2 separate regions of the Homo sapiens genome follow, and region 2 is linked to region 1. The links come from fine-mapping of genetic effects on gene expression. A gene starts in region 1. The other region holds a variant in brackets. All regions are shown on one strand. Distances are between the middles of the regions.

What was found.
Region 2: its variant is fine-mapped to the expression of DHX33 in whole blood (INTERVAL, PIP above 0.99). The same link has a PIP of 0.9 or more in prefrontal cortex.

What each region holds. Positions count from the first base shown.
Region 1 is chr17:5,463,210-5,473,604 of GRCh38, forward strand. It overlaps DHX33 (DEAH-box helicase 33), which reads right to left and starts at 5,773. Exons shown (of 12, transcript NM_020162.4): 1 at 5,362-5,773; 2 at 320-480. The coding sequence starts at 5,650. It overlaps DERL2 (derlin 2), which reads right to left. Exons shown (of 7, transcript NM_016041.5): 7 at 8,045-10,395. DHX33-DT (DHX33 divergent transcript) reads left to right here and starts at 5,883. Exons shown (of 3, transcript NR_135644.1): 1 at 5,883-5,930; 2 at 6,705-6,785; 3 at 6,883-7,151. RefSeq lists enhancers at 4,825-5,407, 5,197-5,416, 5,797-5,866.
Region 2 is chr17:5,436,317-5,446,711 of GRCh38, forward strand. C1QBP (complement C1q binding protein) reads right to left here and starts at 2,839. Exons shown (of 6, transcript NM_001212.4): 1 at 2,526-2,839; 2 at 1,807-1,957. The coding sequence starts at 2,757. It overlaps DHX33 (DEAH-box helicase 33), which reads right to left. Exons shown (of 12, transcript NM_020162.4): 12 at 4,601-8,197. The coding sequence ends at 7,889. RefSeq lists silencers at 2,506-2,555, 2,666-2,835, 2,814-2,996 and an enhancer at 3,056-3,235. The variant C/CAAAA (reference allele first, on the strand shown) is at 6,052.

The sequences.
Region 1 (10,395 bases):
TCACATATACACTGGCATAATGCTTACAATTTTTCTAGAATGATATATAGATAAGAGAGTTAAGAGAGGTTACTGAAGGCTTAAGATGTTCAAGGAAAGCAACTAATTTATCCAACCTGACGACAGATTTTGAAAGCAAAGCACATGGGACCAATAGAGCCCCTGATCTCTCAGGAGCTGGTAAAGAACTCTCGGAAGAATAGGCAAGAAAGCAGCTCACTATGTAAAAGGAGTCTTGTTTAGAAAAATAAAAGGCAGTGGGCATGGGGAGAGAGCTGTTGAGTCAAGAAGTACTAATAGTCAAGAAGGAACCAGGTACCAGCTTCCCAAGTTCAGTTCTCTTCTCATCTGAGACTCTAGTAGCAAGAGAGATGGCAGCTACTCGACGAGGCTGGGTCACAGCAATGATGCCCTGGCGGCTGATCCCTCCTTCATACAGGTACTGAGGGATCTGAGTTGTCTTCCCAGAGCCAGTTTCCCCTAGGAGAGAGGGGGAAAAAAAAAAAAGGCTCACTGAAATGCAAACTGGGGCTCGGCACCAGGGCTGGCACCTATAATCTCAGCACTTTGGGAGGCCGAGGTAGGAGGCTCTCTTGAGCCCAGGAGTTCAAAATCAGCCTGGGCAACATAGCAAGACCCCGTCTCAACAACAACAACAATTAGCCTGGTGTGGTTGCATGTGCCTGTAGTCCCAGCTACTAGGGAGGCTGAGACAGAAGGATCATGAGGCCCAGGAGTTCAAGGTTACAGTAAGCCATGATTGTGCCACTGCATGCCAGCCTGGGAGATAGTGTGAGACACTGTCTCAAAAAAAATAATAAAAATAAAAAAAGAAATGCAAATCGGCTGGGCACAGTGGCTCATGCCTGTAATCCTAGCACGTGGGGAGGCCAAGGGAGGAGGATCACTTGAGCCCAGGAGTTGCTCCTGGGCAACATAGGGAGATGCCGTCTCTACAAAAAATACAAACATTAGTTGGACGTGGTGGTGCACGCCTGTGGTCCCAGCTACTCTGAAGGCTGAGGTGGGCATATTGCTTGAGCCTGAGAGGTTGAGGCTGCAGTGAGCCATGATCACACCACTACACTCCAGCATGGGCAACGGAATGACACCCTGTCTTAGAAAAACAACAACAACAAAAAGCAAATTGACATAAATTTCACCAAACAAACAGCTCAAAGTCAGAAGTAAAAGATAAAATACCCTGTGTTGGTAAAGCCTCAGGAGAATGGGCATTCAGGTATGTATACTGCTGGTGAAATTAGCTGGTTAATTGGTATTGTTTCTCAGGTGGTCAAATTATGTTTTTTAAATCTTTAAAATGTTTATATCCCTTGACCCACAATTCTACTTGCAGAAATTGATTCTAACAAAATAAGTAAACATGTGTATAAAGATACAGCTTCAAAGAGATTTTATTCAATTTTGCTCCTGACAGAAAAAAATTGGAAACAATATAAATGTTCAAAAGGTAATTTACATAGTTAAAATATAAAATAAAATACAACCGTTACATAGATTTCTGCATACTGACTGACATGAAGAGACATCCATTCATGCACTGCTGCCTTCAACTCCTGGCCACTCCCCAGCCTGCTGCCTCCCTTCAAACCCTCTGCCTCTGCCCACACTATGGGCAGAACACCTGCCCTCACACTGCCTGCCTCGCAAACTCTAAGATGAGTTAGGCCTCAAACACGCTCCCCTGGCTGCACAGTGGCCCTCCTCTGGGCTCCGTAGTGCCTTGTTCATCTCTCTTCCAGCACTGACCATCCTGTGTTGTACAGAAGCGTTTAAATGTGTCCGTCCTCCTCCAACACCAGAAGGGAAGCTCCCAGAGGGCAGTGCTCTGAATGTCCCTCTCGTGTACTTGAGTATTTTGCATACAATAAGCACGCAGTAAATGTTACTTCCTACCCTGTGTGAATTCCTTTAACAGTGCCTGATTAGAGCAAAGAACTCAGTAAACCTGCGCTTCCTTCCCCTCCCTCTAGCTACCACCAGGCCTCTCTGACTTCAAAAAGTCCTCCAGTCCCATGATTTGTGGGTTTTTTTCCCTGTCAGTCTGTCAGCCCCCTCTGACTGCTCATCCTTCCTGACCCAGATAAGAATCAGACAAAGGATTTGATTATTCTGCAATCTTCCTGCTGAATCCACTAGGCAAAACCCCAAACTTTGATCCATGTCTCTATCTTTCATGCTCCTATACCAGGGCAACAGAGCGTTGCTAAAGTAAAATACAAAATGCTTGGAACCAGAAGTGTTTTGAACTTTGGATTCTTTCAAGTTTTGTAATATTTGCATTATACTTACTGGCTGAGCATTTTAAATGTGAAAATCTGAAGTCCTAAATGCTCCCAAATCCAAAACTTTTTGAGCATCTGATATGACACTCAAAGGAAATGCTCCTTGGAGCCCATTCTTGACTTCGGATTTTCAAATTTGGGATGTTCCACCTATAATCTGGCTGTGCAGAAGCAAACCTGAGTTTATAGTGTAGCCGAAATGCACCTAGGCACCACTACTGCCATCGATCTTTTTTCTTGTTTTTGCAGCCTGTCTCGTCTCCATCCTCCCCAAGGGCCCACTTGAAGCCCAGTGACTCCCATTCTGAGCAGGGCTCCTGAACCTGTCTCACAGAAGTGGGGTTCTAAAATGTGGTCTCTCCCTAACTGCCCCTAGAAGCCCTTCTGCAGTGCACCATCCTTACATCCGTTCTCTAGCCCTGCAGCCTCTTAGCCTTCCTCCTCTTCCAGACCAGCCCTGCATCTAGCCCTTGTGGCCAAGTTCCCCCGTCCCCCATGCCTCCTGATCTTTGCTCTGTTAGCTCGATTCTATCTTCTGCCTCCCTCCCTACTGAGTTCTTCCCCTCAACCTCTGAATACAGATGGTCCCTGTCTTAGAACTGTTTGACTTCAGGATGGAGCAAAAGTCAAAATCGTACAGTAGAAACTGTACTTTTGAGTACCCACACAACTGTCACTTTCAGTATGGTATTCAATAAATTGCATGAAATATTCAAGACTTTATTATAAAATAGGTTTCATGTTAGATAATATCACCCAACCATAGGCTAATGTACATGTTCCGAGCACACTGAAAGTAGGCTGGGCATATTAAATGCATTTCCAACTTAGGATATTTTCAACTTATGAGGATGGGTGGATTCATCCACACATAACCCCATCCTAAATCGAGCAGCATCCATAAAGTTTCTCTCAGCTTCCCTCCTTTTTCCTCAAAACAGAAGCCTCTTCCCCCTGCTTTCAGCCCTCAGCTCAATGACAAATCAGCTGTTACCCACACAGCTTTGTTGAAATAGCTCTCGATGGGATGGATCCACGATCAATAGTGTCAGAGATAGTCTGTGAAAGTCATGAAAAATTTTATGAGAGGAAATGTATGCAAGAAATGTTTTACAATTTAAAAGTGATTAGGCCTCCTGAATGCTTTATAAAATGTCACCATAACTCTTAGCTGTAGAACTTGCCTGCTTTGCAGCTAGGTAAAACCTAGGACACATGGAGCTAAATGCTGAAATAAGCCAGACCTTAACTGCACTTCTGTCTAAGTCCTAGGCTGTACACCTAGCACATAATTAAAATCCCGAACTTACCAAGGTTTTCAACAAAGGTAAAGGTTGCTAAAAGTTAACAGTGTAACATGTATTTAAAACTATTGAAGAGACACTTTATGTGCAAGGTGTGTAAGGAAAGTAAAGTACACTTTCGGTAAAAAGATTATCAGGAGGGATAAGAATGCACATTTTTACCTACGTTAAAAGGTTAAATAATTGTTTTGAGGGGGCCAGGTGCGGTGGCTCACGCCTCTTTCTATATCAACCAATCGGGCCTAGTAAAAAGCGCTGCTAAAAAACGTAAAGAAAAGGCTAAAAAGCTAAGGGAGTACCAAAACCACCAAATGGACTCTTGGTTTGAAAACAAAATCATAGCATGGGTCATCCCATTCCTGGGCCCTCTCCTAATAATATGCCTGGAACTAATGTTCTTACCCTGCCTAATTAATCTTTTTCAAAGATTTTTAACTGACAGGATCATGGCAATTTCACAAACAACTACCCAAAAACATCTACAGACGGCATTGCTCCTAGTCAACCCGAGACCAGGAAACTCTCCATCCCCTCGTTGCAGGAAGTAGCCAGAAAGAACATGCCGTCCCTCCTCCTTTTTATAACTATAGGGTCTGGATTGACAAAGCAGGAACATCACCATCTTGGACAAGCCCCTCATTCAAAAGTTCACCTTAATAAAAAACCGCCTAAATCCAAAAGGTATCAGCCTAATGGCTAAGGTCAGCACGACCATAAACCACAAATAACATCTCCAGCCAGAAACATTCCAAACTCCTCCCCGACCAGAGACATGTTAAGGGATAACCCCACTCTGGCCGGGAATATGCCAGCCGGGAATATGCCAGCCGGGAGATAAACCCCCTCGGGCCGGAAAAATGTCTGCCCCAAGATAACATCCCCTGCTCCCAAAGAGTCCAACCCTGCCAAAAACTTCTCCACACATATAAACATTCCAAGCTTGTGATAAGCCCCCTCACCCTAACACCAATATATACTCTTAGTCTGTAAGAGAAAGGGCTCCTGACCGAAATCGGCCAGGAGCGCCTCTCAGGTTTTAACTAAAGAAAAGCTGTCTTTAACTGCCAGCCGCGTTTCGTGTTTCTTTCCTTTTTCTTTAACTCTTACAAATAGCTCACATCCAAATCCAGTGGGCATCACATCCAAGTCCAGTATAACCGGACTTGACTGCTGCATCTGCTCACTCTCTATTCCTTTGACTAGCAGCACTCATGGGTCTCCTTCCTCTCTTTGGCTGCTCATCCTTTCCGTCCTTCAGTATCTCCTCTAACACGTTGGGGATCATAAGCCCCATGAAATCAGTCCCTGCCCCACAACTCTGCCTCTTTTCATGCACCAGAAACTACACCTTCCCTTTCGACCGGAATGTGTTCAGGTTCCCATCTCTCAAACGGGCTTTCCCCCCTGCCTAGAATGCCCTCCCTCCCACACGACCTCCCCAGCCGCCTCCTCACAAACCGGGTCAGATCCACTCTTCTAAGATCCGCAAGCCCCCGGTACGTTTCTCTACCCTTTTACGCGGAAGGTGAGTCTTTGCCTACACACGTTGGTCACTCTCACCGGGCTGTCCAGCGCCTCCAGGGCAGGGCTGCCGGACTCTTCTTCGAGGCCCCTCTCCAGGTCTGGCCCAGAAAAGGTATTCAGGTTTGTTGAAGCCACGAACGAAAGGGATTGAGAGGCATGTAAGAAAAACTGCTCTAGCTAAGCCACGGACGAAGTGCAAGGAAGAGCCCGCCGGCGCGGCCACTCACCGATGAGGACCGCGTTGTCCAGGTTTCGGAGCTGGGCCAACAGTTGCCCCCGCGCTTGGAAGATGGGCAGACTCCGGCGCTGCAGCTCCACAGCTTCAGGGTAGGGACTGGCCGAGGGCTGGGCCAGGGGCGGCTGCTGCCTCCGGCCTCCTCCTCCTCCTCTGCCGCCGCTGCCCGCAGTCAGCAGCATCACCACTTGCCTCCCGGGAGGGAAGGACCCAGCGCGGCTCGGAGGTCCAGAGCCTGGCCGGAATCTCTTGGCCGGCGGGAAGCCCGCCTCCTCCGGCATGTCGGGAGGGCACCGCGGCGGGAGGCGCAAGCGCCGAGAGCTCCTGCCCCCTCTCAGGTGCAGACAACAGGAGCACACCGCCCCTTCCTCGCCGCCACGTGCTGGCGGCTCCCGGCGACCACCGATGACCTCACGGCCGCCCCAGTCTTTAGAAAAAGGGACTGCATCTCCCAGCATGCCTTGGGGGCTTGGGAAGGCTTTCACTTCCTGGGGGTGGGAAAAGCAGGGCCTGAGGTACAACCAGGAAAAGGCCCGGAGCTACAACCGGGAAACACAGGATGTAAGGTTCCGTGGGACTGTAGTCTTGGTTAACGAGGTTTTTCTCATTGTTTTATTTTTTTTTTTTGAGATGGAGTTTCGCTCTTGTTGCCCAGGCTGGAGTGCAATGGCGCGATCTCGGCTCACACTGCAACCTCCGCCTCCTGGGTTCAAGCGATTCTCCTGCCTCAGCCTCCCAAGTAGCTGGGGTTACAGGCGTGCGCCACCGGGGCCCGTCTAATTTTGTATTTTTAGTAGAGACAGGGTTTCTCCATGTTGGTCAGGCTGGTCTTGAACTCCCGACCTCAGGTGATCCGCCTGCCTCGGCCTCCCAAAGTGCTGGGATTATAGGCGTGAGCCACCGCGCCCCGCCCATTGTTTTGTTCTAGTAGCATTACTTCTTTTCAGTAAACCCGCGTTTTCCCCTTCTCTGTCCAAATAACAGTCACTCTTCAAGGAAAGTACTTAATTCTGTAAAATCAATGAGAAGCGCAAACGTGCATTGTCTAATCCTCTAAACAACTTATAAGTTATGTGGTATATACTGGTTATTAGATTATCTCTAATTTACAGATTAAGAAATTGAGTCATCTTAGTCATTCAGATGTCCCCAAATCATAATTTTGTGATCATCTTGTGTTACAGAAAGGAAAACCAATTCTGATATACATGAATTTAACTCAGAAAATGACTCCTCCAACGGATGTGGTCGCCTCCAGTAATACAAGCAGAGAAAGGAGGGAGTTCAATGAAATTAAAATTGTCTTTTATCTTTCCTTTCCCCCAACCATTCCAGCCAGACTCTCAAGTTCTCTACATGGCTGTGCAACCCCATCACAGACACTTCAGTGAAGATTCAGAACTGCAGCAGAAAAAAGTAGGATTATAACTAGTTCTTCCTTACCCTCCTAAAAGTTCTTAGATGATTTGCTAATTTACCACGGAGAATGCCAAGTAGCTGTTTGCTCTTACAGGAAATGTGATTTCCAGAGAATACACCGTAAGCTTCAGCTCATGTGAAGGGTATCTTCTGAAGCTCGTTTCCATGAAACTCGCCCTGTTAAATATCTCCCTTCCCGTGATTCGTGAGAGAGCTAGTCTAAAAACAAAAAACCTCCCCTTTGCTCCAGGTCGGAGATAATTTTCCTCTAGTTGCTGACAGTTTGGTGACCAGGCATTACTGAAAATGTGCACGTTGAACCAGCAGCAGATTTGTGTTTAAGAATAAACTGACAAATTTTCACTTCCTACCCTGAAATATTTAGAAAGGCAACCCAAAACTACAAGGGATAATAAATGTTAACTCTCAAATTATGGACTTTGAGTAAAGACATCCCAGTCCTTTTTCCCAGTGTGCTTTCCAGAGTAACTTAAGGTAGGAGTCCGATGTTCCAAATGATTACAATAATTTAGGTAATGTAAATGGGTGGACTTATTTCTTGATGGAGCACATTCCACCTCTACATGCAGCCCCTAATCATTTCTAGGCAATGGCTGTCATGTAGACCTATTATTGCCAGATCTTCCAATTTTCTCAAGAAAAGCCAAAAGTGAAGATTTTTATCTGTCAATGTTAAATACAGGTTTAAACTTAAAAAAAAAAAAAGTACTGTCAAAACAAAGCACATAGGTAGGTAACAAATCTGTAGGTAACTCATCCATAATCTCTGGCCTAATGATCCAGCTATTCTATAGCCTCAAAGCTAAGAGGACCAAAGAGTGGAAAAATTAAGTCCTATATATGCATCAAGCCATGCTGCTCACATTTCTCCCATTGGTAGACTGAAATCTGCTGTTTCTCCTGAAGAAGTCTCTTGGGGTTCACCAGCTTTCATATGTAGATACTGACAAGCTAATAACTATTCAGAGAATATCCTGGTTCTTCCTTCAAACGACGAAGTGTCAGACACATTTCATTTTTAACTTGTCTGGGATGGTCTGTGGACTTAACTGGTCTGATCACGACCATAACAGCTGGTGGTCACCTTTGCTTTTCCGACCACCAAATTACTGCCCTTGATCATGTTCAGTTTCCCTCTATCCCACTTTCAGAGACAACCACAAGCTTCAGCAACTAGGCTCAAGCTTGCATGCATACACTTTAATCCCTCTATAATTAAAAATACCAGATAATACTTTGCTGATCAATAAACAAAGGTATTTATTCAGCACCCATGTGCCAAGCACTGTGCTAGGCACTGTGGTGGATACAAAAATTAAGACATGGTCCCTGCCCTTAAGGAGCTTACATTCTCATGAGGGAGACAAGACTAATATACATGTACCAGCTAGGAACAGTACAAGACAATATATAATTTGGCGTTAAGAATGTCATACAGACTTGAAGCTTTATAGGGATTCAGAGACAGACAATAAAATAGGCCTTAGAGTCAAGATTTTTTGAGGAATCAGGAACAAGGCCAGGCCTTGAAGAACTGAAGAGACTTAAGTTGAGGTCCCTGTTAGGTAGAAGTGGGAGTAAAGTTAAGAAAAAAACAAGTATGCATATAATGTAGGGGCTTACTAAGAAGTCACTGTGGATTTCTGAGCAGAGGAGTGACTTGATCATACAAGATTCAACAATTTTATTGCAAACTCATAAAATATGTTTAAGTAGCCTGGAGACATCCTACAGAACACAGAAAATAATGGCAGGATCATGACTAACAACATAGCTGGAACTCACCTGTCAAAGAAAAACAGCTACAACATAAAACACTGGCAGGATAGATGACAATAGTTCTAGGAAGCCCATTACTCAACATGGCAATAGCTCCAATGCTTCCTTATTTTCAGAGGCCCCAGAGACTGAGGGTTTCATTATCCAGACCCAGGACTTAGGTGTTCTGCTTCTAGAGACTACACAAGAGGTATGAAAGATATGAGGACATACAAGAGTGACACAGAAAAAACAAGAGGAAGAGAGAAACAAATAGAAATCCATACTGGAAAAAAACGCACCGAAATGTATATAAAATGTATCTCCTAAGGAGATGCAATTTGTATGTCCATTTATTTTTAAATGAACGTATACCGTATTTCCATAACAAACAAAAAACACTATGCTTTAGTCAAGTGTGCTTTTCAGTATCACTAGAAGAATCCAGGAATCCCTCAAATTATGTGTAAGGTTAGTTGGTTGGTCTCAAAATTCCATGTATCAAATCTCACTTTCAGTTTATTTGCATTGTGAAAGGGAAGTGTGTTCTGGAAGAACTAAGATTGAGAGGTAAATTGGGGAGAAAGTAAGGACTTTTCCTTATGTCCATTCAAGCACAGGTATCCTGTCAAGCAACACAGGGCTAGGAATGGTGGTTGTAGGGCTGGCCAAACTGATGAGAGGTGATTGAAATTACCACTGCTCAGGACACAGTGTAGTCAGTCACACAGCAGGGCATCCTGCCACTGGGAACTTGCACCCTATAAAATCGGAGAAATCAAAAACCCTGTAACTGCCTGCCTTTAGGCTGTATATTCAAAATGTATTTCCTGTTTTACCTAGTCATTAATGTATACAGATATTCCCTACTTAAATGAACAGTGAGTTAACAGATTTTAGGATTAGTATTTTACCACAAAAATGCCATTCATTGCATAACTCCAACTCAGGGAGAACAAATAAAACTAGAGAAACTCATTTCTAGCCCAAAAACAATTTAAAAAAAAAAAACAAAAAACAAAATTCTAACAAACGTCACTGATAAAGCGTTCTTGAGCAAAAACAAGATAGGATAAAACTTAAGAATCCCATAAGGATTATACATGCTAAGATTGGCTTTTAAACTTTGAAAACCTTTTTTAAACTGCTTAAAAAGCAGTCCCATAGACCCAGGTTCCATAAAATTGCAACAATCATATTCAAAGTTATTAGCAACATGTAAAATACTTAAATACCATTAGTTATGCAATTCCATTTAAAGACATTAAAACACTTTTCACTTCAAAAACAATCTGAAAATTCCTATTTAGGATGTCCATTATGTTTAAGCCTATGTCTATCTTTCTGAGGACAATGTCACATTCTGGAAAGCTACCCCTTAACAAAGGTTGAATGAACTACTACTAACAATCCACTTTTGGGAAAGGGACCTGTGCCTACATGCCGTTAATGAAAGCTGTTTGGAATCATCTCTTTCCTAGGGGTGCTCTTTCGACTCTTCCAGGTTCTGGAAGTTACTTAAGCAGTGTGAATGCAAACCTGCTGAGACTCAGGGAAGACTTAATATTTAGGGGAAGTATTTATTGAACCACAGCATTAAGTGTCTACTTCTGTGGACCCTGTCTAATTTCTACCTGATTGGGAAGGTAATCCAGGTACTTGGCTCTGAAAAGGTTCTTGAATTTTCACGAAGCAAATGACTAATGTTAACTAGCCAAAGACCCTGGAAGAACATATGCCTAGCTAACTGGTATCTGTTCGTCTGGCTCCAAAGTCAACATTCTAACTTGGTTTCCAAATCTAATGAAAATCTGAGACCCTGTCTCTA
Region 2 (10,395 bases), 27 kb before region 1:
GTAGGGCAAAAACACACTATGCAACAGGCAAGAGAATCAGGACCCTACTTCACACCATATTCAAAATGAATCACAGACCTAAACTAAGAGCTAAAACTAGAAAACTTTGAAAAAATTAAGGCATACATCTTCACAACCTTGGGTTAGGCAGTGGTTTCTTAGACGTGACACTAAAAAAGCACAAGTTGCACTTGGTGAATTAGAAGCAAAGTAAAAAATAAATAAAAAAGCACAAGCGACCAAAAAAATAGGTAAACTGAACTTCCTCAAAATTAAAAACTTTTGTGTCAGAGGACATTACCAAGAAAGTGAAAAGGAAACCCACAAGATGGGAAACAGTACTTACAAATCATTAATTTGATAAGATAGTTGTACCCAGAAAAACTTAACTTTTACAACCCAACAATTAAAAAGGTAAATAGGGTGGGCAGGGTGGCTCACACCTGAAATCCCAGCACTTTGGGAGGCCAAGGCGGGCGGATCACGAGGTCAGGACTTTGAGACCAGCCTGGCCAACACGGTGAAACCCTGTCTCTACTAAAAATACAAAAATTAACCGGACGCACGCCTGTAATCCCAGCTAAGGAGGCTGAGGCAGGAGAATTGTCAGAACCTGGGAGGCAGAGGTTGCAGTGAGCCAAGATCGCACCACTGCACTCCATCCTGGGTGACAGAGCAAGACTCCGTGGGGTTGGGGGGGGAAGCTACAAATTGTATGACTCCATTTATATGAAATGTCCAAAAGAGGCAATCCCATAGAGAAAGTAGCTTAGTGATTACCTGGGGTGGCTACAGGGAGGAATAATGAGTGACTGCTAATAGGTATTGTTTGGGGATGACAACAGTGTTCTAGAATTAGGTAGTGATAACTGATGCATAATTCTGCGAGGACTAAGAACCACTTAATTTAATAAACTTCAATAAATGGGTAAATCGTATGCCATCTCAATTAAATCTCATAAAAGCTGTGATTTAAAAAAATTACATACACATCATAAGGTCAATTATGAAGGAAATTCAATTTATTTATTTATTATTGAGATGGCGTCTTGCTCTGTTGCCCAGGCTGGAGCGCGGTGGCGCGATCTCGACTCACTGCAACCTCCACCTCCCAGGTTCAAGCGATTCCCCTGCCTCAGCCTCCCGAGTAGCTGGGACTACAGGCACGTGCCACCATACCCGGTTAATTTTTACTAGAGCCAGGGTTTTAGTGTTAGCCAGGATTTTCTCCTGACCTCATGATCTGCCCGTCCCAAAGTGCTGGGATTATGGGTGTGAGCCACCGCGCCCAGGCTCAATTTAAAAACCTGGAAGATGCCAAATGTTTATCTGTGTAATGAGATTATGGATGACTATAATGCAGAAAAGTGTAAACACTTTAACAGTTTAGGAGATGATGGGGGAGCTGACTTAGGTCACAAACTCCCCACCTCTGATGGCAGCCCTTACTACAGTGTAACCCCATCCTGTTACATAGAAGTTACATATTTTTCATTTTCACCCATACTAAACATTAGAGAGCAGTGTCCTATTTTATCAGGGCTGTAAATCAGAGATCAAACTGATTCTGCCAGTACTTTTTTGCACTACATTTTTGTCTCCTTAGTAACCAGCCCACAGCAAATTTGTGTTCGGTGAATGGACTGCCTGGGGCTTACGAAGTTGTCCAAATGAATCCTTCACTCTCTTGAAACCCATTTATCAAAGTATCCACACCTGAACTCAAGGCTCTTCTGGGGATGACCCAGGATGGGTCCTGCAAGGTTAAGGGAGTTGCTGCCCTGGGATCCCCAGACCAGTACTTACTTTTCCCCGGCAACTTTCCGCACTAATTTCGCTTCTGTCCCATTCAGTTCCAGCTCCCAACCTCCAGACATCTTAGGGAGGGTTTTATGCTTCTGAATTTTTCTTTCCTCCTTAATTTCATCACTCAGGAAATCAACAAAAGCTTTGTCTCCTAGAAAAGAAATCCAGATACATAAAAAGGAAAGCCAGTTAGTCTAAAACATAAAACTATTACCCAGGTTATTGCAGCCAGAAACCTGGACTGTTTCTAATCTCTCTGCTATTACGGTTACTCTAGAAGCCTGTTTCCTTATCGGTAAAAATACCATAATAGTAGTAGGAAGCTGAGCCTGATTCTGGAAAAGTGATTTCCAACAATGAACGCATTACCACTTTCCGCTATAAACCAGGAGAATTTCCAATCCTCTTCCACTTGCCAAACGATATAACTATGCTATTTTCAACCACGACCATGGGCCTTCCCAAAGGTCCACTTTCGATAGAATAAGACTAAGGAAAAAGGTACCCTAGTATTTAATTTTATTCACCCCCTACCAAAAGAAAACGAAACTGCTGGATAGGGGAGGTGGGGGAAATATGATCATACGTGGGTTTAGCCCGCTGGTTGCCAATCAATGGAAAAATGTCCCAGACCTCAGAGGTCGGTTGCAGGCCCTATTCCTGGTCTACGTTTTCCCTCTGTTGAACGCAAACCACACCCCCGGCCCGCTAAACCTCACCGTCGGTGTGCAGCGAGCCGCAGCCACAGCCACAGGCGCAGGGTCCGCGAGGCCGCAGGAGGCCCGGCCGCCGCTCGGAACCTGCGCGCACGCTGAGCAGCCCGAAGGGCCGGGTGCACAGCCGGGGTGCCGGCTGCAGGAGCTGCCGGAAAGGCGAGGCGGGCGCGGCAGCGCGGAGGCCGGCGACGGAGGAGCCCAGCACACGGGGCACGCAGCGCAGCAGAGGCAGCATCGCGGAAACGACTGCGAACACGTGCAGATGCAAAGGACAACCCAGGCCTAGGCGCCCCGCGACCTGAGGCGCCGCCGGAAGCCCCGCCCCTGCCCGGAAGCGCTTCCCGCGCCGGCGCTCTGACGACCTAAGGCCAGCGGGCGGAATCGCGCCCTCTGCTGGAGACTCCGGTGCAGCCCGGGAAGCCTCGAATCCGGATTCCGGAGCTTTCTTGCTGCGCTGCCGAGTCCGCTGTCCGAAGCTGTTTAATTCCCTCTAGTGGCCGCTTACCCACTTTCCACCTGCTGTTCTCAAAGCACGCAAGGCTTTTGGGCTGCGTGGAATGCACTCTTGTCTCCCGCCAGCTCTCACCAGACCCTTCCACGGTCACTTTCCTCTAGGAGGCTGTGGTGTTATGATATATATATGTATTGGTTTTCATCCACAGTTCCTGGGTCGTAACTCCTATAGCCCTTGTTACAATGTTCTGTGATAATGTTGGGTGTGTTAGGCCTCAGGAAACAGACTCTCCCCTTCTCCTGCCCTCCTTTTACCTGCCCCAAAGCAGGACTCTAATCTCCTTCCACATTTCTGATTATGGGTCTTAAGTCCCTTCCCAGAGAAGGTCCCACCATATACCCTGGGGGAAGGGATGCTGATGTCCAGAAGCTTCCATAAAAACCCAAGAGGAGAGGGTTTGCAGAGCCTCTGACAGCTGAATACGTAGAGGTTCCTGGAGGGTGGTGGCCCAGGGTAGGCAAGGAACCTCGGAGCTTCTTCCCCATTCCCCACCCTGCTCATCTCATCTGTATCCTTGGTCATATCCTTTATATGAAACCGGTGAATGTGTTTCCCTGAGTTCTGTGAACTGCTCCAGTGAGTTAACATAATCCAAAGAGGGGGGTCGTGGGAACCCCAACTTGAAGCGGGTTGGTCGGAAGTTTCAGAGGCCCAGACTTGCCATTGCTGTCTGAAGGTGGGGGCGGTCTTGGGGACTGAGCCCTCAACCTATGGGATCTGACACTATCTCCAGGTAGATACTGTTGGGATTGAATTGGAGGACACCCAGCTGGTGTCTGCTGCTTAGTGTGGAGGGGAAAAACCCAAACCTTTGGCCACATAAGTCTTCTGTGTTGATTGTTGTGTTGTGAGAGCAAAGGAAAGTCTGAGGGTTTTCCTGAAAGAGGCCTTCTAGAACCTTTTTTTCCACCGGCTCGGAACTCATGCTTGTGCGCACCCAGCCCATATGCTTCATTCTCTTTTCAACAGGAACCTCCTAGCGTTGCTGCTTTAACCAGGTTAAACCCAACCAGACTGTGACATCCTCAAGGGCAGGATCCATGATTAATTTTTGTGACCTTCCCTCTCTGCACCTCCAACCTTGCATCCAAGTTCTAATGGAACATCATTTTTCTGGGGACAAGAAGCCAGCTTATATCATTTAGATAAGTCCAGAGGCTTCCATAAAAACCCGAGGACAGGGTTTGGAGAGCCTCTGATAGCTAAATACATGGAGGTTCCTGGAGGGTGGTGGTCCAGGGACGGCATGGAGGCTGGGAGCTTCTTCCCCATTCCCCACCCTGCTCATCTCCTTATCTGTATCCTTGGTCATATCTTTTGTATGAAACCGGTAAATGTGTTTCCCTGAGTTCTGTGAGTTTCTCCAGTAAATTAATATAACCCAAAGACAGGGTTCAGATTTATTAAAAATCAACAATCCTACCTTCCCAGGATATACAGGACATATAAGCTACTAAGAAGGTATGTCTTACTAACTCATGGTAAGACTAACACTTAATATTTTCTAAATAATTTTCTATGAATAATGGAAAAGAGATGCAAGAAACAAGCCACACACATCATATACAAGATTCATTTTTAATGGATTTGATCGTCGGGTGCAAATTTGAGCATTATTTACAAGAGCTTTCTGTAGAGTTATTTCTGTTCAAATAAAACCAGACTCTCAAAATACAACATAAGCCTGAACCTACTTGATTTTTTTTTCTCCCTCTAGTTACCAAGGAATATCGTATCTCAGATGCATGGCCTACTATCACACTGGTCTTTAAAGAAAAAAAAAAATGCATGGCCACAGTTCCAGGCAGTTCCTGGTAGCTGGATTTAGTGGATTTATATATGACAGTACAGTACATCATCAGTTTCACCCACAGGGCAGAACTTGCCTCCATTCAGGCATCTCTTTACAACTGGCAGCAATGCAGCATTAAGGGTTTTTAGCCAGGACCTGCTGTTTGCAGTCCTGCCCCTTGTAGTGTTACTCTGGGTGTTGCACACTCCATGATTACTAGAAGACAAACACCTGAGGCATGCAATCTGCTTGGAGTGCATCTATTTACATGAAGCTGCTCACGGGAGCTGGTGATTCTTCCAGATATGGGTTTCGTAGGTTGGCAAAGAGTTATCACACCATCAGAGATTTTACCAATGGAAAGAGAGTAGCTGAAGATTATATTGCAATGTTATTGTGAAACATTTAACTTTCTTAAGTTTAAAGTGTACTATCTCCTGCAGCTCAATATAAACAACGATGTATTTCTTTGTAGCAGTATGTGGAGTCAGAATGGGTTTTCCAATCTGATTTAATCCCTGAGCAGCTATGTTAAAAGTTAACTTTTTAAAAAAGCCCAATAAAAAACTAAATACTGTATTAAAACTCTACCACAATGTTACAGGGATAAACTTATTTCTGTACAGAAACATTAAAGCTACTTAGAAGCTGTTTACATCCTTTGCCTCTCAGAAAAAAAATATACATTTCCGGAAACTGTTCAGGTACTTAAGCTGGACATAAATTACCCCAAGTTTTTTCTTTTTCTTTCTTTCTTTCTTTTTTTTTCTGAGACCGTCTCACACTGTCGGCCAGGCTGGAATGCAGTGGCGTGATCTTGGCTCACTACAAACTCTGCCTCCCAAGTTCAAGCAATTCTTGTGCCTCAGCCTCCCCGGTAGCTGGGATTACAGGCGTGTGCCACCATGCCCAGCTAAGTTTTCTATTTTTAGTAGAGACGGGGTTTTGCCATGTTGGCCAGGCTGGTCTTGAACTTCTCAAGCAATCCACCCACCTCAGCCTCCCATCCCAATGCTGGGATTACAGGCATGAGGTGATCCGCCCGCCTTGGCCTCCCAAAGTGCTGGGATTACAGGTGTGAGCCACTGCGCCCGGCCACCCCCCAATTTTTTTTTTTTTTTTTTTTTTTTTACCAGCACTATGAATGATTAAAAATACAATATTTTTCTTACTAAGTAGGACTAAACATTCTAATCCCCTACTGGAAAACAAAAAACAAAAAA[C/CAAAA]AAAAACTGGAAAACTTTTCAGAAAGTCAGCAGTGGTAACAAGTCAGTAAGTGGAAGAACTGGTTCAAAGTTTAAGAATTCAGTAAGATAAGGTATATAGGAGCTGTCAGATCTTCTTTTGCCCACGTATAACCATTTCTGACAGACAGCCCTAAACACTAGCTGAGAGCTTGACTGCACAGGACCACGGCTAGTGTTGGAAATAAAGACTGAGCCGGACTTGACATACACAACTCCGGACAGATGGGACCCTGGAATGGGGCTGCTCCATCAGGCCACAGCTTCCAGAAAGAGAGCATCCATGATCTCTGAAGAGCCTCTTGGGCAGCTTGGCCCCTGGTTATAACTATGATTCATTCATTAAGAAATGACAAAACACCCCACAGATGTATTTGGACCAAGTAAGCACAATAAAAGAGCTAAATCACGGCTTCTTCTAGGGCAAAATATTATCTGGGGAAAGATTACTTGCTTCTGATAATTAAATAGCTAAGAGGAACCGTTAGTGCCTTTTCTCTGCTCAGAATATCAGAACAGGAACAGACTGTGGATATCCTCCAATTCCCTCTGACAATGAGGGTTAGAGAGAGGTGCCTAGCAGTTAGAAAGCAGCAAAGCCAGATTGTCCCAAGTCCCTACGAAGAAGGAAAAAATATCATAGAAAATTAATAAGATGCAAGAATAAGTGTTACAGCTCTAGCTCTTTTAGAATTTGTCCAGCAGGTCTTCTAGACTTCACTGAACTGCCCCCCACCCCCCCCGCCCACACACCAAAAAAGATACAAGAATGTAAGCCCAGATGTGGTGTGGTATCTGGCATAAGCCAATGTTCTCTGGGTTCTAGGTACCCCTCTCCCCTCCCCCACCCCCACCCCCTCTGACCAGGGGACTGCCCGAAAAGAAACAGCTGAAATGGTACACAGTCACTCCTCATGCCCGCATGTTCACTGGTGCCCAGTTAGAGAGAAAAATGGCAACTGTGTATGTGGGAGTCACCTACACACACAAAACACTGATAGGTCAGTTTCCCATGTCTACACGTGACAGGATTCAGAAGGTACAAATCAACCTTCACCCAGGAAGCTTACATGTCTCCTGAAAGCACTGACAGGGTCACGCACTGAGGACCAGGAGGCTCCTTTACTGGTCTCTGCTTGGAGACAGACACAGAGTGGTCCACCCTGAGACACAAGCGTTCAGTAGGGATCGCCATCCCAGGAGGTACGAGATAACAGCACCTCCCTCTGGAAACTTCTACAGAAGTCAGTTTTGTTTTCTATTTTAAAACTGCATTCAGAGAGACATTAAACAAGAACTAAGGGCAACATCCAAGCTCCGCAACCTCCTGTGGCCCTTCCAGAAAATCTCCCTCAGTCACAAGAACTTGGGATATTGCTGTACTTCACATCATATGGCAAGCAGTAACATTCAGCCTAACGGCTCCCAACTCACTGTACGTGTGTCGTGCGTGCTCCAGGCATAGTTCTGGGTACTTTCCATTCCTTTTCTCTAAACTTTATGAACCCAATTTTATAAGGATTATTATTATTACTCCCATTTGGCAGATGAGAAAACTGAGGCTCAGGTGTTAAATTAAGTCAAAGTCACCCAGTAAGAACCAAAAGCATAATTTTGAGGTTTCCAGGTACAAATGATATGTCCATGTCTATATGGTTCAGTCCCAGGAGTTGAGCAAAGATGCTTTCACGCTCCTGGAAGTCAGGCACCTTCAGCTGATTCCAAGGCTTCTCTAAGCGCCAACCTGGAAGCCTGCTGTAAGGACAACTGTAGTCCAAGCTCCCAGGGACCAGTGATTCTGGCGGCATCCTGGGGCGGCTCAGTTTCTGGCGGTTCTCAGCTTCCTCCTAAAGTACTCAGGGGCAGCCTCGTACAGCCACTGTGCATCTATGACGCAGAGGTCCCGCATGTAGCACTTGTTGGTGTAGAGCAGCTCAGTGTACACGACGCAGGCCGGCTTGCAGTGGAAGAGGACAGACGACGGGTGGATGGCCACTGGCTGGTGGGTGTCCGTGGTGGCATAGGTGCCATCTGGCTGAAGCTCGGCGGTGCTCATGAAGAGGCTGTGAGCCAGGCAGCGGCGGACACTCTCCACGTCTCCTCGGGATGATGCGATTGGCATTGACATCTGTTTCGGGAGAAAGCGAGGAATGGAGCCGACCCCACACGTAAACACTGGTCAGCACTACACAGCGTGTTGGGGCAACTGGACCCACTGGGGCAAAAGCAGCCCACATTGTGAGCCTAACGATGTGGATTCTGACATTCGGAGGTGGTCACCAAGGATCAGCAAGGTCAGGGGAAGAAGGCCCAGCTGGAGGAGCACGGACCAGAAACAGGGAAACTACCGCCTGTGAAGGTAGGGCTGGGAGGGAGGTGCTCACATTAGCCACCAGACCACAGGCAGGTTGGGTGACCCACCCCTCACCTAAATTCCATCAGGACGGCCCGGAAAGGAAAGGCCCTTCCCTCTCGCTTTGACCATCTCACCATCTCCTCACTCCGATTCACCCACCTGCTGCTGCCAAGCTAATCTACCTAAAGCACAACTCGAATCACTCTTCATCCACTCAAATACCTTCAACAATGTCTCTACTGCTCCTTGCAAAACAATGCAAACTTCCCGTGGTGAAGCCACGAAGGAGCCACCCTGAGCTGCTCGCCTGTCTTTCCTCTCACCGCTCTTTTTCTTTCTTTCTTTTTTTTTTTTTGAGGCTGAGTCTCCCTCTGTCACCCAGGCTGGAGTGCAATGGCGCAATCTCAGCTCATTGCAACCTCCACCTCCCAGGTTCAAGCTATTCTCCTGCCCTAGCCTCCCAAGTAGCTGGGATTACAGGCGCCTGCCACCACGCCTGGCTAATTTTTGTATTTTTAGTAGAAACGGGGTTTCACCATTTTGGTCAGGCTGGTCTTGAACTCCTGACCTCAAGTGATCTGCCCGCCTTGGCCTCCCAAAGTGCTGGGATTACAGGCGTGAGCCACCGCGCCCGGCCTCACCACTCTTCTTTAGACACTCCATGGTCCCCCATAGCTGGCTGCCTTCTCTTTCCTCGCCCCGTTTCATGATTCCTATCTGTGCCTTCACATTTGCTACTCTTAGTAGAAATGCTGCCTGTCTCATCAGAGGAAATGTCAGTCACCAGTCAATGTCCTTGTTCTACTGCTCTTGATGAGTGGGGCATGTAACCTACGCCCCTGGGCACAGATGAACAAACCAGTGGTACACACACGCTGGACCTAAGCTGGCCAGCTTTTCTCTTCCAGGCATCTTTTAGGTTTGAAACTGGAAAACTTGTCAATCTCTGCTGGGCTCTTGAGTGGAGGGGCCATGCAGAGAAATCACTTCCATGCGGAGGTAAAGGTGAGAAAAGGGAAGGAGGCACGCAGAGGGCACTCAAAGCAAGAGAAGCAGCAGGTCCAGAGAAAGTGGCGGGCCTGGCTCCTGCAGGCTTTTTCTGGTTCCTGTGACTCTATTTCCTGCCTATCGGTTCTCAGAGATACCTTTCCATCCTTGGAAGAATCTTTATTTTGTCCTTTATGATGGCTCTAGGGTTTCTGTTGTTGACAATCAGCTGATCTATGCCTGAAGAAGATACTTTTTTTTAAGAGACAGGGTCTCACTCTGTTGCCCAGGCTGGAGTGCAGTGGCACAATCCCAGCTCGCTGGCAACCTCTGCCTCCTGGGTTCAAGCGATTTTTGTGCCTCAGCCTCCTGAGTAGCTGGGGTTATAGGCATGCACCACCACGCTCAGCTTAGTTTTGTATTTTTAGCAGAGATGGGGTTTCACCATGTTGGTCAGGCTGATTTCGAACTCTTGGCCTCAAGCAATCCACCTGCTTGGGCCTCCCAAAGTGCTGGGACTAGAGGCATAAGCCAGCCACCACACCTGGCCTGGAAGATACTCTTTTATCTCCTTATCTGTCAAGATCTAGCTCAGTTGTCACCACCTCCAAGAAGCCCCAGAGGCTAACTGGTGGTCTCTCCTTCCAGACTATCAGCTTTACCACTCACTGGCTGAGTGATTTGGGGCAAATTATTTAACCTGATTAGGCTTAGTTTCATCATTTGTAAAATGGGAATAACAAAAGAATCAATCTTATAGGTTGAAATGAGGATTTTATCCTTTGGGTTAAGGTCTGAGTTGAAAAAGAAAAAAAAAGAAATGAGGAGTTTAAATAAGGCAGCCACATAAAAAGTACTCAGAACAGTGCTGAACAAACACTTCATGAATGATAGTGATTATTTTAATTTGATGGCCTCCTGGCATGAGTGTATGTACGTCAGGTCACCATCTAGATTATTACTTAGTTACTGAGTAGGCATGT